Homo sapiens: one gene and its partner. The protein of the gene in region 1 purifies or fractionates together with the protein of each later gene. This does not show direct contact. Each region holds a gene or a part of one and is shown in the gene's direction. Other genes may lie near its edges. The genes, in order: LBP and CFHR1.

Region 1 (3,830 bases):
CCTTCCGACCCTTCGTCCCACGGGTAAGGAGTCCCTTAGTTCCCCATGAGTGCAGACCGAGCCTACTAGACTCCAGAGGTTTCTCTTTAAAACCTCTGCATCTCTCAGCTTGACCAAGAGTGAGAAGGCCGGGATGAGACTCCCACTGAAGGCTGGGGTGCTGCTCCTTTCAAAGCCTAAATAACAGAGGCCACGCCCCATATCTTGTGGGACCACAGCTTGTCCAATCTTTTATTGGTGTTATCTAAGAATCCCAAGGAATGCTGGCATAGTCCATAAAATGTACCCTAATGAACAGCAGCTAACAATTACAGGGGGCTTCCTAGGTGCCAGGCATGTTCTTGGTTCTTTAAAAAATTATTTTTTGGCCAGGCATGGTGGCTCATGCCTGTAATCCCAGCATTGTGGGTGGCCAAGGTGGGTGGATTGCTTGAGTCCAGGAGTTCAAGACCAGCCTGGGCAACATGACGAAACCCCATCTCTACAAAAAATACAAAAATTAGCCAAGCGTAGCGGCACATAGCTGTAGTCCCAGCCACTGGGGAGGCTGAGGTGGGAAGATCACCTGAGGCTGCGAGGTTGAGGCTGCAGTGAGCTGTGATTGCACCACTGCACTCCAGCCTGGGCAACAGAGTGAGACCCTGTCTCAAAAAAAATTATTAAAAATGTTAGTTTTTGAATGGGAAATAAATTCTCAAGGTTCAACATTCAAAAGATCTAGAAGGTTATAGAGTGGAAAGTCTCACATCCACTCCTATTCCCTAACCACCCAGTTCCCATCTCAAGTTTGCCAATATTACCAGATTTTACATATCTTTCTGATGATATTCTATGTATATACAGGTTCACTATCTCTTATCTGAAATGCTTGGAAAAGCAACTCTGCCTACCTTCTTAGTGAAGCATTTTACCCCCTCAGCCTTCCAAATGTCTCCCTTCTAGAAGAGGATGTAGGTTTTACATATACATAACCAAAAGGTTCATGGGAGTGCTGTTTTTCCACGAATAGCCTCCTAAAAAGGAAGAGTCTTGCCCCAAATTAAACTCTGTACCTATCTCTAGTACACAGAAAATTAAGAGCACTTTTGAAATGGTGGAATCTAGGGCTGGTCGTGGTGGCTCACACCTATAATCCTAGCACTCTGGGAGGCCAAAGTGGGGGGGTAGCTTGAGGCCAGGAGTTCAAGACCAACCTGGACAACATAGCAAAACCCTGTCTCTATTTTAGAAAGAAAAGTTAAAAAAGAAAGAAAGAAAGAAAGAAATGTTCTGTGGAATATCATATTAAAAGAGTAATACGAGAAAATTAAATATTTTTTTTAAAAAAGAAATGGTGGGATCCAGCTGTGTCATATTTCGAAAACACTGGCATCTGACCTCAGCATGCCCAATTAGCAGAATGTGATGAGGGGATGGAGAAACCTTGGGAGAGGTAGGGAGGGAGAAAAAATGGGCCCAACTTTTCTGGAGGACAATTTGGCAATACCTGCCGAAAGTTTTAAAAGCATTGCTGGCCAGGTGCGGTGGCTCACACCCGTAATCCCAGCACTTTGGGAGGCTGAGGCGGGCAGATCACCTGAGGTCAGGAGTTCAAGACCAGCCTGGCCAACATGGTGAAACCCCATCTCTACTAAAAATACAAAATTAGCCGGGTGTGGTGGTGCACACCTGTAATCCCAGCTACTTGGGAGGCTGCAGAAGGAGAATCGCTTGAACCCCAGAGGCAGAGGTTGCAGTGAGCTGAGATGGCACCATTGCACTCCAGCCTGGGTGACAAGAGCAAAACTCCATCTCAAAAAACAAAACAAAAAAAGAAAGCATTGCTGTCCTTCAACCCAGCAACTCCACCTCTAGGAATGTTTTCCTGAAAAGAATAGCCAAGGGTGCTCACAGGAGGTGGTCATTATAATGGCAAAACCCTGGAGACAACTTGATGCCCAATAGAGTTTAATCCATCGCAGGACCCATACATAACGAAATACAACACAGCCGTGAAATAGATGGTGCAGACTCTGTGTCTGACATGGAGAGATGGCCAGTTTTGCCACTAGGAGAAAAAGGCACAGAGAATTTTGTTGGAAATAAAATCAATCGAAAGCAACTTCCAGCTTTATCTGACTCCCTCAGGCCTCTCCTGGCAGACTTGTATATTTTCTTCTCTTGATGTAATCTCCTAATTCTGCTCCCAGTTAGCCAGGCTCTACCCCAACATGAACCTGGAACTCCAGGGATCAGTGCCCTCTGCTCCGCTCCTGAACTTCAGCCCTGGGAATCTGTCTGTGGACCCCTATATGGAGATAGATGCCTTTGTGCTCCTGCCCAGCTCCAGCAAGGAGCCTGTCTTCCGGCTCAGTGTGGTAAGGTTCAGAGCCTTTGCAAATGCTGTTTCCTTTTCCCCACATGCTTTTCCCTTTTCCCCACATGCTTTTCTCCCCACTCACCACCTGGGTAATTCCTCCAGGTCTCAACTTAAATATTACTTCCCGAGAGAGGGCTTTCTTGCTGGCCCTTACCCCCAATCTACCTTACGCCCCTTGCCACTTTTTCTTGTAACACCCCATTATCTTTCTTCTCAGCGTTTACTACAAAGATACTTTGTAGCTGTCTGCAGGTGTATTTGTTTAATGCATGTATCTCTCACTATGTGAGTCTGGGCTATTGTGGGGAGAAAGGTATACTGGTGTTTGTCTATTTGTCTATTTTGACCTTGGAAGACTACATTTCCCAAGCTTCTTTGCACTTTGATTTCCACCCAGGTCAACCAATGGGAGGTACTGTCAGGAGAATGATGGCGGGGAGGAAGGATGAAGCCAGAGTACTATTTCCTCTTTCTTTACCACGGCAGAGGCTCTGGCTGTGACTATGTCTCCTCATGGTGACTTCCATAATTCCACCTCCACTCTTTGTTCCTCTAGTCCTGGGGTGGATACAGCCTCCTGTCTCTGGATAATCTCTGGGTGGCCTCACCAACTCTTTACTAGCTTCTCAACAATTCCATCACTTGTATAACCAATTCCCCGTATTAAATTCCCTCTGCGTTAAACATTGAGAGTCAGTTTTCCTTTTTTGATGGACTCTGTCTAATAGGGAAGGGATGTTGGGTCCTTTGGGGGCCTTGCTCCCTGGATGGAGAACTCTGCTCTCTTGTTTCTTGACTTTTGAAATCAACAAGTCAAATCTCTACCAGGGTAATTCTTCCTAGAGGCTATATCTGCAATTTAATATTGTTGTTATTGTTATCAAAAGTGTCATTATTAATATATTTTAAATTAAAATATAATTTACTGTCTGGGTGTGGTGGCTCACATCTGTAATCTCAGCACTTTGGGAGGTCAAGGCAGGAGAATCACACAAGGCCAGGAGTTTGAGAGCAGCCTGGGCAACACAGCAAGACTCCATTGCTACAAAAAAGAAAAAACAAATAGCCAGGCCTGGTGGCATGCACCTGTAGTCCTATCTACTCAGGGGGTTGATGTGGGAGGATCGCTTGAGCCCAGGAGATTGAGGCTGCAGTGAGCCATGATTGCACCACTGCACTCCAGCTGGGCGACAGACAGAGACTCCATCTCTAAAACAATAATAATAATTTATTAATGTTGTTACTAGGGCTGAATCTTGACCTGAGATAACTAGAAATGATCCTTTTTAGAGCTTTCCAAGGGTAGGTACTCTATACCTTCTCTTAGTAGTCTGTTCAAAGTTTAACTGCTAACATAAACAACAATTTCAAGTAAAAATGTTCAAGTCCAAGTTCAAATATTGTTTGAGCACCTACAGTGAGCCTTCTGGGAGTCTATGATCTAGTGGGCAAATTTCCTGCTTTAGCTCAT
Region 2 (3,830 bases), on another chromosome or scaffold:
GACACAAACACACACATTAACCTCGGCCTACAAAGAGTCAGGATCATCAGTATCACTGTCTTCTTCCCCCGCTCTTGTCCCACTGGAAGGTCTTCACGGCAGTAACAGGCATGGAGCTGTCCTCTCCTATGATAACAAAGGTTTCTTCTAGAATAGTTCCTGAAGGACCTGCCTCAGGAAACATTAACTGTTTTACAGTTAATTTTTTTAATCAATAGAAGAAGTTAACTATAAAATACTAATAACAATTATACTATATGAAATACATTAACCAGTAACACTTCTATATTATCATCATCAAGTATTACGTACTGTACAAAATTGTGTGTGGCATATTTTTATGTGACTGGCAATGCTGTAGGTTTGTTTACCCCCGGCATTGCCACAAATATGTGAGTAATATATTGCACTGCAATGTTACGATGGCTATTAGGTGATAGGAATTTTTCAGCTACACTATAATCTTATGGGTCCACTGTCATATAAGTGATCAGTCATTGACCAAAATGTCATTATGTGGTGAATAACTGTACGACTGTATATATATATATATATATGTGTGTGTGTGTGTGTGTGTGTGTGTGTGTGTATCCCAGAAGAAATGTATTCACAATATTCTATCAAAATATTGAGACAATAAAAATTATTTTCTACTTTTGAAATTGGTGGTTGTGTAAAGGAGGCTTGCAAGAAGACATTAACACTCCTAGCTAGCACCATTGCAGATATGCACAATGAATACTTGATGAATGTCATAGAATTCTTTCTGAAGCATAGGTACAATATAAATGGTTGATGAAAACCAAGTTATTCTGGATAGCAAAGAATATGTAGGTACAAATGTATGAAAATAAACTACTATAATTTTGGAGGAGTGAAGGATAATTGAAAGAGTTATGGTAGGTTAATACTATCAAGACGGGAGTCTTTCCCTCAACACCTTTACCAAAACTATCTAATGTCAAATTTTAAACAGTTAGATAATCAATTTCAGGTTTCACAAGGTGAAAATATTTCAAATATTGTGCAACATTAAACATTACTTCTAGATAGATGAAAAAGAGAAATTTCTCTTGATTTGTCAGCTTAATTTCTGCACACATCTTTCAAATAAGGTGAAAAATAAAATTATTTCTTATGCAGCAGTACTATATTGCAAAAATATCTTGACATAAAAACAAAGAGCAGTATTATATTGAGGAAATATCTTGAGCTAAATACGTACTCAAAGATAAAGCATATCAAACCCATAGAACGTACAACATCAAGAGTGAACCCCAACATAAACTATGAACTTTGGGTGGTAATTATATTGACAGTGAGGGAGCTTATGCATGTGGTAGGGAAGAGGAAGTGGTATATAGGAAATCTCTACCTTCCACTCAATCTTGCTGTGAAAAACCTGTAAATAAAGTATAAAGTCTAATAAAAAATATGTGTGTATATATATGTATGTGTACACAAAAAAAGAGTAAAAAGTATGAAGATTTCACCCATTTTCTACATTGTTTTAATATATCTTGCACCATAGTGTGTATGGATGTATTTATACATATATACAGTAGTCCTTTAGCATCCTCAAGGAATTGGTTCCAGGACGCTACCCACCCCCAGCAGATACCAAAATCCAAGGATACTCAAGTGTCTAAGAGAGAATGGTGTAGTATTTGTACATAACCTGTGCATATCCTCCCATACAATTTATTTTATTTTATTTTAATTTTTTTTGAGGTGGAGTCTTGCTCTGTCGCCCCCAGGCTCGAGTTTAGTGGCATGATCTCCGCTCACTGCAACCTCCCCCTCCTGGGTTCAAGTGATTCTTCTGCCTCAGCCTCCCAGGTAGCTGGGATCACAGGCGTGCACCACCACACCTGGCTAATTTTTGTATTTTTAGTAGAGATGGGGTTTCACCATGTTGGCCAGGCTGGTCTCAAATTCCTGACCTCAAGTGACCCACTCACCTCAGCCTCCCAAAGTGCTGGGATTACAGGCATGAGCTACCACACTCAGCCCTCTCATACAATTTAAGGAATCTCTAGAGTATTTATAATACCTAATACAATGTAAATGCTGTAAAAATAGTTGTTATATTGTATCTTTAATTGCATTATTTTTATTGTTTTATTATCTTTATTGTTTTTTTCAAATATTTTTGATCTGCAGTTGGTTGAATCAGACGAAGTGAAACGAGTGGGGCTGACTGTATATATATATATATATATATATATATATATATGTGCGTGTGTGTGTGTGTTCACAAGTATAAATATATAAATACAAATATACAAATACATATTTGTATATACAACATTAACCAGAATTTAGCTCTAACTTTATCTTGATTGAGTTGTTCTTAGTGATTTTCTTATATTCCCTAAATTATTTCCACTGAAACTATATTAACTTTGTAACCAGAAAATATTCAAAATGATATTAATAAACAAAAAACAAAACTACATATCCAACATCTTTACTGCACCAGAAAAAAAAATAGGACAGAGTTTCTGGCAGAGACACCTATGGCAGTCAATGAGAATAGAGAAAATAAGTAAATTGAGAGCTAAGAACAACCCTATCACTTTTCTACTGTATACTATGTAGATCAGGAAGATTTGCTACTCTTACACTCTGTCTTCATTCTTAAATTGTTGTGTGTGGGTTTTATTCTTGAAGACAATGCAGGAGAGTTCATATTTCATATCACTCCAAAATATAAATTTTATATTCATTAACAATTACCTCCTCAAATAGTCATGTACTCCTAGTTAGTGATGCTTTTCATTCCTAATTTGTACACTGGAAAGCATTTAAGCTAAAGGCATTTAAGCTAAATGAAAGAAAAACACTATAAGTGAGATGATTAAAATATAATCTAGTGATTTATTTATGTAACTTATTATGTAATTCTTCAGTTTTATGTTATTTTCCCAGCAACATTTTGTGATTTTCCAAAAATAAACCATGGAATTCTATATGATGAAGAAAAATATAAGCCATTTTCCCAGGTTCCTACAGGGGAAGTTTTCTATTACTCCTGTGAATATAATTTTGTGTCTCCTTCAAAATCATTTTGGACTCGCATAACATGCACAGAAGAAGGATGGTCACCAACACCAAAGTGTCTCAGTGAGTAAATGCTCTGTTCATTAAATGGATGTCATTCAGTGAATAGAGAAGGATATGCCAGACAAGATCATAAGGTCTTGATAATCACAGGGACAGTGACCAAAGAAGCTGGAAAGATGGGAGATGTAGTCCCCCTATTTTGAGATGCCTCCTATAAGAATCAATGAAGAATAAATATGTCAACTGTCTTGTGTTACCTGGAAATGCTCTACGTGTTGAAATATATTAATTTTTTTAAACTGATCTTTAATATATTTGACTGCTAATATTTCTTTACTAATATTCATTTCGCAGCAGCCTGATCAAAGTTTTCCTTTTAAATGTCATTTTTATACATATTCTGTTTTGAATTTACCATTCTTTAGCATATTGAAAGGAGGTTTAGCATTTTCACTTTTATATTTCAATAAATAATTTCTTTGGTCCTTCACAGTGTAGCTATATTAATTCTCCAATAAATGTAGAGAGCAGACTCCAATGATAACAGGTGTATTAAAAGAAAAAAAAATTGGGAGACAGATACATGAGGCAACAAAGGAGATAGCAATGATCTTTCTCCTAAGAAACATTTATGAGAGTTAAGAGAGAAATAGATATATGAAGAGGTTCTTTTGTCCCTAAAAGGTTGACAAACATAAAATATTTCATTATAAAAACCATAGAGCAAGAAAATGAAATATTTTCTTCTATATATACATATAAAA

Evidence for each region.
Region 2: the proteins of LBP (region 1) and CFHR1 purify together in Homo sapiens (affinity purification with western blotting, with the first as the bait; one study listed by BioGRID). This does not show direct contact.

The regions. Positions count from the first base shown.
Region 1 is NC_000020.11:38,366,806-38,370,635, forward strand, and holds part of LBP (lipopolysaccharide-binding protein precursor), read left to right. Parts: coding exon 1-23; intron 24-2,189; coding exon 2,190-2,357; intron 2,358-3,830. UniProt on the Homo sapiens protein: Plays a role in the innate immune response. Binds to the lipid A moiety of bacterial lipopolysaccharides (LPS), a glycolipid present in the outer membrane of all Gram-negative bacteria.
Region 2 is NC_000001.11:196,822,546-196,826,375, forward strand, and holds part of CFHR1 (complement factor H-related protein 1 isoform 1 precursor), read left to right. Parts: intron 1-2,931; coding exon 2,932-3,126; intron 3,127-3,830. UniProt on the Homo sapiens protein: Involved in complement regulation. The dimerized forms have avidity for tissue-bound complement fragments and efficiently compete with the physiological complement inhibitor CFH. Can associate with lipoproteins and may play a role in lipid metabolism.